Linked DNA regions of Homo sapiens: region 1 is linked to region 2. The links come from fine-mapping of genetic effects on plasma protein levels. A gene starts in region 2. The other region holds a variant in brackets. All regions are shown on one strand. Distances are between the middles of the regions. Region 1 overlaps NID2 (nidogen 2). Region 2 holds the start of NID2 (nidogen 2).

Region 1 (5,357 bases), 24 kb before region 2:
AAAAGTATCTTCTAAATCCTTGTTGTCAACGGGTGGCCTTTCCAGCAACACTGGTACCTCACCTCCTAGCTTGGTAGAAAAGCAAAATCACGGACCCCACCCCAGGCCTGCTGAACCAGAATTTACATTTTGACAAGACCTCCAAGTGATGTGTGTGCAGGTTCAAGTCTGGGGTGCACCGGCCTATACTATTATAGGTTGTGGAGCTGGGAGGAGAAGAGCACCCCTTCCCCATGAAGTAAAATCATCCCCAGGTGCCCCAAGTACCATTTTTGCATTTGACAGATCTGTGCATAATTTAAAAAGCCTGACAAATATGC[T/C]GCAACAAATTGGGGTAAGAGGACACAAATGTTCTGAATGGAATCATCCTGTTTCTCAGAACAGCTGGGAGAACATTTAGACGAAATCACTGCCTTTCAAAAATCAGTGATGTGAGGTCAAACCATTCCCAACAACCTGTGGCCAGAAAACTACACACATGTGGCTCTAGTACATTAAACAAGTGATTCCTCTGTCACTGCGTAAAGGCCTAAAGACAGTGCCCCAAGGAGCACCACTGCCAAAGCAATGCTGACTACCGGCCTTCTCAGAGGCCCTACTCACCTGCGAGGCTGAAGCCGTTCTCAGAGCCAGGTTTTTCTAAAGCAAAGAGCCAGCCAAACAGGCCTCCAATTGGTGTGAGGGGGAGGAGGGCCTGGGCTGCTGGCTGTGGGATGTGGCTGATGGCCGTGTAGGCTCTGCCATCATTGCCCACGATATACGCATGCAGGTCCACATCAGTGAAGTGCACGGGTGTATGGCCCACGTGGAGGTGGCCACTCACTTTCCCATTCACTCGGTGAGGTGCCCCTAAAAGACAGCAAATCCAGTTAGGCTTGGACGTCATCCTGGCTAGAGATGGGTGTACCCAGGTATAATTATTCCACTGACAACTTCCAAAACTCACTCTTTAGCAAGTCACTTTAATGATTTCCTAACCAACCAATTATCCATCTATGAAACAGTCCTGCCTCCAGTCTGTTTTCTCCCCTCCTCCTTCTACTCCACTACACTTTGGCTCTAATGAGCTGGCAGAAGGAAGCATTTCTGGATAATCCTCAAATTGGGAATCAGCCCAAACCAGTTCATTCCTCACACATTTATTGAGCACCTGCAAGTTGATAGCACTCTGATTTAAGTAGTGGAGATGTTTGGTCCATAAAGCAGAGCTCACAGTGGTAGCTGGAAACAGGTAAGCAGCAGGAATAGACACACAGGAGTTCCTGGCCCCAGTCAATTACCTTCAGGCAGACAGTGCTTCCCATTTCCATAAAACTTGGATTGGCAGTGGCAGCAGAAGCCAGTGGCATAGTCCGTGCAGAAGGCATGCCGGGAGCATTGTCTGTGGTTGTGTTCACAGGTTTCCTTGTTGGCAGCATTATACGTGAAGACTGAAAAATAAAACAAACTTGCCTTAAAAGGACTAAATGATTCCAATGTCACTGCTGCATCGGGGACACAACATCTGCTCCATAGAAGCAGTTTAGATCATAACAAACAGTTTTTGATGTTTAAGAGACCGGCATAACATTCAACCCAAGGGAATTAATCTGCTTTGTCTGCTGGCAAGAAGAATTGCTTACTGCTCCCGGCTGGGTCCCATTGCAGAGTTGGTGAACTAAGATGAGACTGCACCCGTGGGTTTGAGTGCAGTAAAATGAAAGCAAACCAGTAAGTACATGTTAGGTTGAACTTCATGAAACCACTATTTTTGTGGGTCAAAAAGGGCTAAATATCAGCACTTTTATATGGTTCAACCTAAACACATCCTGAGAGGAAGACATAATAGAGAAGCTAACAAATGTCTTATGTCTAACCATCCTTCTTTTAGGGAACACTGAACTTAAAAAAGATAATAGCTGGTCTCGCTACCAAGATTGTTTTGAGGGAAGGGTCTTAAAGAACACACGCACCTACCTCAAAGAAAAGGCATGGGGAGAAGGGGACAGAGGAGGGCAAAACAACAGGGATTCAAGCTATTAAAATGCCCTATGCCCTTGGCAGGGTTTAACTATGATGGGTATGGTACAAGCATGATTTCCACGCAGTAGCAGACAGCTTGGGCCCCACTCGCAGATCTTCCAAGAAATTATGGAGGACTAGGATAAATTCAGTGCTCTGGCAGCTGTTTCTTCCATTTCCTACTTATTCTGCCCATTAAAAGAAGAGGGCCATCTGTGCTGCAAAGAAATGGGGAAACTGGAGCAAATGCCATAGTTCATAAAGGAAATAGCCAAGGGGGTAGGGTGTGGCGGGGGTTGTGGATGGACAGGAGGGTGCTTTCTCCGGGGCACTAGGAAATATGCCAATCCCAAGCATGGCCACCAGGAGGCCAAGCGGCTGCACACACCTCTGCCTCCACATCCCCAGGAGGTGGAGTTGGCTGGAGACTCCAGGAGCATGCTGTTGAGCAGGGATGGCATGGAATTCTAGTGTGAGACACGGATGCTGGCATGAAGGAGGACACCCACCCTACTCTTAGGAAAAACCAAGTGGTAGTTGTGTTCCAGGTCTATCTGGAAACGAGGAGACAGGAGGGGAGGAAGAAATCCAAAGATCAATCTTTACCCAGTATTCCCAGGGAGAACAGAAAGTAAAGGAGCTAATGAGACATAGCATTATAGGTACAATGTCACCAAGATAAAGACCTCCATCAGCAAATAAAAATATAACAAAGTTAACACTTCAATCGCGCTTAACATATACAAGCTTTACATTTAACAACCTTTTTTTTTTTTTTTTTTTTTGAAACGGAGTCTCGCTCTGTCGCCCAGGCTGGAGTGCAGTGGCACGATCACAGCTCACTGCAAGCTCCACCTCCCAGGTTCACGCCATTCTCTTGCCTCAGCCTCCTGAGTAGCTGGGACTACAGGCACCCACCACCACGCCTGACTAATTTTTTGTATTTTTTAGTAGAGACAGGGTTTCACCATGTTAGCCAGGATGGTCCTGATCTCCTGACCTCGTGATCCACCTGCCTCGGCCTCCCAAAGTGCTGGGATAACAGGCGTGAGCCACCCCGCCCGGCCAACAACTCTTAATTTGCACAACAACCCTAGGTAGCAGGGACTTTTTTTTGTTGCTGTTGTTGAGACAGGGTTTTGCTCTGTCACCCAAGCTGGAGAGCAGTGGTGCCATCTCGGCTCACTGAAAGCTCGACTTCCCAGGCTCAAGTGATCCTCCTATTTCAGCCTTTTGAGTAGCCGCAGCCACAAGCATGCATCACACCTGCCTACTTTATTTTTTGGTAGGGTGGGTTGGGGGGAGGGGTCTCCCTGCGTTGCCCAGGTTGGTCTCGGTCTCGAACTCCTGGGCTCAAGTGATCTTCCCACCTAGGCCTCCCAAAATGCTGGGATTACAGGTATGAGCCACCACTCTGGCCAGGGACAATTTTTTAACCCGTTTGCAGATAAAGCTGAGGCACAGTAGACTAAAGCACCTGAAGTCGCATAGGCAGTGAGTGGCAAAGGTGGGAACCGAACCTAGGACATCTAGCTGGAGAATCTTAACTGCTACTCTCCACGACCCCTTCAATGGGATCCAAGTACGGAGATCATGAGCACTAGATTAGGGGTCACCACATGTCTGGGGTTAATCAGCACAGACTTCAAGTATAATTCGAGTCATACTTTATAAACTGGGTTTAATGGTAGAAGCAAGCAGGGAAGATTATCGAGATGACTATTACAGCATGTTGAAAAACAGCACAGGTAAGAAATGAGAGTAGCAGCAGCGGCATTAGCTTTTGAACAGTACTGGAGTGCTGCCTGCAGATCCTTGGGAAAGCAGCAAGCTGAGGGTTGGCAGGACAGACAGTGTAGGTTCAAGTGGAAAATCTGATTAGAACATAGTAGGAATGAAGTTATGACTCAAGATTTAGTATAGGGCCTTGATGACTTGGCTAAGAAATTCCAGTTTGATAAAAATAGAAAATTAGGCATGACTCAACTTTATTTAAACAAGAAAGTGACAAGCTTAACTTAAACAGAAAAGTGATATAAAACTCAAGGCAGAAAAAAAAAAAAAAAAAACCCAGGATGGATCATGGTAAAATAGATGGCTGTGAAGAAAACTGTATCACTGTCTATTAGTTTAAGAAAGGGAAAAAAACATTTAGAGTAAAAGGAAATGAATGTAACTTGGATGTGTCAAAATCTCAGGTTTCTCCAGCTCAGAAATTCACAACTAAGTGTAAGGAAGCAGCTACAGGAGGGACTCACACACTCACCAGTGTGCTCATGGCTTAAGGGCCATCAGGACTTTCTCCCAGAGCTCAAGGAATGAGGGGCTGCAGAAAGCGCCAAGCTCTAGGACTCAACCTCAGCCCTCCCTCGGGGGCTTTGTGGAAACTATGCAAACTGTCTTTCAGCTTCCTCATCTCTAAAATAAGTAGAACACCTCTTCCTCACCCCTGCATTGCCAGAAGTCGCATTTCTTCTTAATGTACTTCTGAACACCAAGTAAAAAGGCAATCTGCTATAGGTCTAAAGAACAGCCATTTGGCTGGGCCCGGCAGCTCACACCTGTAATCCCAGCACTTTGGGAGGCCGAGGCAGGCGGATCACGAGGTCAGGAGACTGAGACCATCCTGGCTAACACGGTGAAACCCCGTCTCTACTAAAAATACAAAAAATTAGCCAGGCGTGGTGGTGGGCGCCTGTAGTCCCAGCTACTCGGGAGGCTGAGGCAGGAGAATGGCGTGAATCTGGCAGGCGGAGCTTGCAGTGAGCCGAGATCGCACCACTGCACTCCAGCCTGGGCGACAGAGAGAGACTCCATCTCAAAAAAAAAAAAAAAAAAAAGCCGTTTTCATAATATTCAGATAAAAATCAATCCAAACTTTACAAGCTGTTCTGCCCACAAATTAAGGAAATAACAGGCTTGGATTGTATCTTATTTCAGTTATTTTGTGAAGCCTTATTCTGCAACCCAATTCTTATTCTGAGGCTGAATTATGAAACAAGGAGAGAGAAGATGGAGGAGAGACAGTCTAGATATGGAGAGTTAAACTAGGTGGAGTCATAGCTTTTATCTAAGTAAAAAGAGGCAGGGCGATGCAGCCAGCAACTTACAAGTGCAACTGTGCAAAGGTTTATAAATAGATTGGAAGCTGTACTACATTTTTCTATTACAGAAAAAGAAGTTATAACAATGAGCAGGCTCCCATGAAAGGCTATTATGAGACTTAAACTGTAATTACAATGGGCTAACTAGTTACTGTTAAGCTAACCTGGGAGTCTTTTTAAACAGTTTTGTGGAATATTGTATTTTTAGGATGGTACTTACTGAGCCAAGAACACACACTGTCTCTTTCAGCT
Region 2 (5,375 bases):
GATTTATAGTCCTTTGGGTATATACCCAGTAATGGGATGGCTGGGTCAAATGGTATTTCTAGTTTTCTTAATGAAACATTCTGAAGCCAACTAGCAAATGGTAATGTCTGCAGGTGGATTTTAATTAGAAAAGTAAAAGAGAGATGGAATTTACAAATCTCTTCTACCCTAAACCTCCCCCACCCCAGAAAAGGACCAGACAAAAGTTTTAATTCCAAAAACCTTGCATTTAAAGAGTCCTTATGCAACATAGAGAGTAACAGGATGGTTACCAGAGGCTGGGAAGGGTAGTAGGGGTCAGGGGAAGGTGGACACAGTTAACGGGTACCAAAAAAAAAAAAATAGAAGGAATGAATAAGACCTACCATTTGATAGCACAACAGGGTGACTATAACCTGTGATAACAGGTTATTATAGTCAATAATAACTTAATTGTACATTTTTAAATAACTAAGAGTGTAATTAGATTGTGTGTAATACAAAGGATAAATGCTTGGGGGGATGGATACCCCATTCTCCAAGATGTGATTATTACGTATTGCATGCCTGTACCAAAACATCCCATGTACCCCATAAATATATACACCTACTATGTACCCTCAAAAATTAAAAAATAAAGAGTCCCCATACAAAAGATATAAGTCACAGCATCCTTACAAGATAGAGATCAGTGACATGGGCAAGCAACCTCACCTCTTACAGGGGGCATGTACCATCCTTCTATAGTGAAGAAGCATTTCCGTAAGTTAAAATTGAGATGAATCATATGGTTTCAGCCCCTAGAGTATGGTATTTTAGATTCAGGTCTAATTCCATAGAAGGAAGCCCTTACTTTCTTCAGGAATGAGGCAGTTTGCCATTTACCAAGCACGCTGGCCCCACTCATATCCATTTGGAGGACTTCAAATGTTGATGACAAGACTAAAGACCAGGAGCCTGGAATTTTTTACTTTCCGCAGGTAGAGACTGTAAAGCACATTGACGGCAGACTCCTATAAACTAAGAAACTTGTAAACTGGTACCTGGAAGGCAATTAGGCAGAAGTTATCAAGAACTTTATCAAAAGTGCATCCTCTCTGACCTACCAATTGCACTTCCTGGAATGTCAACTAAGAACATGTGCAAAGATTTAGCTTTTTAAAAAGTGATTCACGCTATTATTTATAATAATGAAAAACCAGAAAAAGCCTTAATGGCCCAACACTGGTTGAGCATACTGTGGTACACCCACTATTATACAGGATAATAGCAGGATACAGTAGTATGCATCATTATAAATGATGTAGAAATACATTTATTGACATTGAAACATATTTACAATACACTATTCTGTGAAAAAAGCAAGTTATAAAACAGTATGTGCAGTGTAAACTCATCATTGTTAATAGACAGCAATAAAGATATGCAGAAGAAAAAACTCTGAAAATGTACGCAGAAAAATGTTTATCAGTGGTGGGAAAATGAGTGGTTGTTTTCTTTTTTAAAATTATCTGTATTTTCTGATTTTTTCCCCTTCAATGAACATATAATTAGAAATACTTGTATACTTAGAGATGGTTCTAAAAATAAGCAACCAAACAGTAAATTGCCTTATGTTCAAAGGGGCTCCCACATCTGCACTCCCGCTCTCATATCCGCTAAGCATTTTTTTCCTCAAGGGAGTGACCACCTGCCAGGGCCTCAGAAGATGCCTAGAGACAACGTCTTTCCTCACTCCCAAGCCACTCCAGCCCTGCTGCCTCCAAGGTCAGGTTCAGCGCAAGAGTAGGCTCAGAAACAACTCCGAGCCAGTCCCTGGGTCGCTGCCCCAGAATTTAAGCCCATCCTTCAATTTCCTCAGCAGTCAAATATCCCTGGTCACTTACCTCTCCCGAGGGCAGCGCCCCGCGCTTGACCTCCTCGTAAGCGCCTACCTGCTCCCAGGTGGCCAGGAAGGCGTGGGTGGGGGTAAAGCGCGCAGAGCGCGGGAAGCCAGCGCGCACATAGCGGGCGGCCAGGCCCAGCACTGCGGGGGAGGTGTCCTCTCGGTACAGGACTCGGCCTCTGCCGTGGCTCGTGTCGATGTCCGCCAGAAAAGGGGCGATGGCCGGGAAGTCGGTGGGGAAATCATAGTCCACATACTGCGTTTCCCTGGGGAAGTCCTGAGTGGAGATGATGCCGTTGGTGCCCACCTGGGAGAGGAGAGGGACAAAAAGGTGACAGTCGCTCAAGCCCAAGGACGCTACCCTTTCGCGCAGGGAGGGAAGGGAACTGACTTAGGCAAAAAGCCTCTCTCTCCTTCCCCACTGGCCAGGGAGTCTGGATTCAGGGAAACAAGCGCAACTTTTGCGACTGTCCCAGCTCCGCGCTGCAGTAGGTCCAGGGGCCCTAAAACTCGTTCACCTATCTTCTCACTCCCCTCACAACCCCGGAGCCCCATGTCCTCGGAGAGGAAGCCTCCAGGTCTGAAGAGGGAACACCCCAGCTCCGCAGACGGGCACAGCCTTCTCGCGGTCCTAACTGCAAAGCCCGCTGGCCGCCCTAGCAACGCCACCTTTTCTGCCTGGGACGCGTACGTGGCTGCGAACAATTCTTGCTCTCCCCTCCAGGTCATTCTTGCTCCCCTACAGCAGCGGGGCAGGCAGCGGCATCGCTCTCTGGCCGGGTACCACCGCAAGGGTGCTGGGGGGCTCCAGGAGTGGGGTCTGTTTCCTCCCCTCTGGAGGCAGGGTTTCCGTGAGACCGACCCCAGGGAAGAAGCTGCGGGAAAAGTGCCAGGAGGGGGCTGAACTTACGTAGAGGTTGCTGAATCGGGCTTCGTAGAAGTGCAGGGGATTCGCCAGCTTCACCACGGCTGAGCTTTCGTCGTCGCCTTCCTGCAGGAGCTGGTCCCCCCACGACTCCCCGTGTGGGAAGAGCTCGTCTGGGTGCAGCGCCGCGGCCCGCAACATTAGCAACGGCAGCAGCAGTAGCACTGGTAACGACGACAGCACCGGCCGCCCGGCCACCCGGTCCCCCTCCATGCTCGCTCGGCCGTGCGCTTACCCGCTGCACAACGCGTCCCGCCCCGGCCTCCAGCCCACTCTCCGCGCCGCGCCAGCCTCGAACCTGGATCTCCGCGGGCGCCTGGGCGGGGCGGGACTCCAGGCCCACCCAGCAAGCTAATTGGCTGAGGCCCTCGGCTGGGGACCAATCACCGGCTCTGAGAAAGTTCGGCAGTGGCCACCACATCTGGTTCTCGTTAACTTTTCTAAGGCAGCGGCCGCTGGAGCAGCGGGGCTGGCGGGGTAAAAGCTCCTGGCCAGGGCTGCCTGGAGCTGCCCCTTCCACTCCGCCCCCAGGGAGCTCCCGGGTCATCCTCTCATCCGGGCTGCCCCGCGGCCCCCAAGGAGCCCCACCCCCGGGACCAAATGGCCCGCAAGGTTTGGGGCAGCGGCGTTGCAGGAGATGAGCTCAGCGCAAAGGGAACCCCGCAGCGGCGAGTGCGGCTGCTGGCCTGCGCGCTGTGGCCCCAACAGGCTGGCAGGGCGCGGGCGGGTGGCGGGGTTGCGGTATGAGCTTTGCTCCCTGCCCTGGGGTCCCGGGCGCTCCTGGCTCTGGAGGCCTGGCCATCGGTCCGAAAAGCAAAGGGACATTGTCGTGGTCCCCTCGGCCGCTTCGCTCCACCCAGAGACGCCCTGAGGAGAAGCGAGCCTTTGTACGAAGGCAGAGGGCTGACTCCTAAGTTCTGTCCCCCTCCCGAAGGCCGGCCGCTAGGGAAGACTTGGCCACCCTCTGGAAGTACCTTCCCCCGGGAAAACCGCAGCAGGAAAGACCATGAAATACTACTGTGTGTGATCCGCTCCGTTTGGGGAGTAGGATGAGGCATCCCGCTTGGTTACCAGGCAGAAAGGGGCGAGTCGCGGGGATGGGAAGACCCTGATCTCTTGCCCATTGCTGCGGCCGTCGGAGATGCCCTCCCCCGCGGCCACGGAGGCGGTAACCTGAGCTGCTCCGCAGGACTGGAAACCGCACAACCTCGAAACCAGCTGCGCAGGAGAAGGGGAACCCCATCCACCATAAACATCCCCTCTGCGAAGCCTCAGGAGCTGGAGGAGATTTTATTACCATTTTTATTATCAAGAGCTTAAAATTTCCCAGACAGTCTGTTTTCTCTCCCAGGCCCCCCATGAGGTCCTTAAAAGCAAAGATATTTAAAAAGAACGAAAGAAAGAAAAAAACCAAAAAGCAAATCCTTGGAAATGCCTTAAAGGACTCTCCAGAGACACACTGCTCTTTGTAGGTGTTTATTCCTATGGGCCCACTGGACCAAACGCTAAAAAACGTGAAGACATCAGACTGTGAGACTCATAGAGCAGACACAAAATGGAAAACTGGCCCAAAGCAGTTTGCTTCCTCAGAGTGGAGAGTTGTATATTTGATGTTCCAAAAATATATTTATGCTTGCACATATATTTTCTCATTCTTTCTGGGGTCAGGTATTTTTATTTTACTGAGGATGAAATGAAAGTTCAAAGACAGATGACTTGACTTGCCCAACATCATCTGAAGTTACTCCCTGATATAAAACTACTGGCCCTCTGTAGTTTTACTTTATCTCTCGATTCAGCATAATAATAATAACTAACATTTATTTAGTGGTACTAAGCTATGAGCTTTGGGGCAAGCAAACACTGAGATGGTCTCCAATGATCCCCATTTCCTGGTGTTCATTCCCCTGTATAATCTCTGCCCTGGGAGTGTGGACTGGCCTTGTGATTTCTAACAAACATAGTGTGGCAAGAGTGATGAGAAGAAGGCTAAATAAGATTGTGGCTTCTTCCTTGTTAGTTGACTTTCCCTCTCATTGATTTTGATGAAGCAAGCTGTTATGTCGGGGAGGCCCACATAGCAAGGAACTGAGGAGGGCAGCCTCTGGCCAACAGTCAGCAAGGAACTGAATTCTGCCAACAACCATGTCAGTGAGCTTGGAAACGGATCCTTCCCCAGTTGGGTCTTGAGATGGTATCTCAGCGCTGGCTGACATTTGATTGCAGCCTTGCAAGAGACCCTGAAGCAGAGGACCCAGCTAAGCCAGGTGCAGATTCCAGACCCACCAAAACTGAGAATTATAGTTTTGGTTAGATTATAATTATAGTTTTGGTGGGATTCCAGACCAACCAAAACTGAGAATTACAGCTTCAGCTTCAGAAGCTGAAGAAGCTGTGTGTTGCTTTAAGCTATTACATTTTGGGATAATTTGTTATGCAGCAATAGACAACTGATAACAGGTAGTCGTTGTGTTAAGGAAACTAAAGCTCAGATGGGATTTTAAAAAAATCAGTTATTATCACATGGCTGGTAAGTACCAAAGCTGAGATTTGAACCCAATTCTGTCTGATCTCTAAACCTCCACT

What was found. PIP is the posterior inclusion probability: the model's chance that the variant is causal. The UK Biobank Pharma Proteomics Project read protein levels with antibody pairs (Olink). The fine-mapping took linkage between variants from a reference panel, not from the people measured, so its PIPs are less certain.
Region 1: its variant is fine-mapped to the plasma level of the NID2 protein (UK Biobank, PIP above 0.99).

The regions. Positions count from the first base shown.
Region 1 is chr14:52,041,502-52,046,858 of GRCh38, forward strand. NID2 (nidogen 2) reads right to left here. Exons shown (of 22, transcript NM_007361.4): 6 at 1,281-1,430; 7 at 604-849. Among named protein-coding and RNA genes, the nearest start is that of NID2, 25 kb to the right of the region's middle. The variant T/C (reference allele first, on the strand shown) is at 321.
Region 2 is chr14:52,065,993-52,071,367 of GRCh38, forward strand. NID2 (nidogen 2) reads right to left here and starts at 3,067. Exons shown (of 22, transcript NM_007361.4): 1 at 2,775-3,067; 2 at 1,866-2,171. The coding sequence starts at 3,002. It overlaps LOC105378180 (a long non-coding RNA gene), which reads left to right and starts at 3,244. Exons shown (of 2, transcript XR_943864.4): 1 at 3,244-5,375.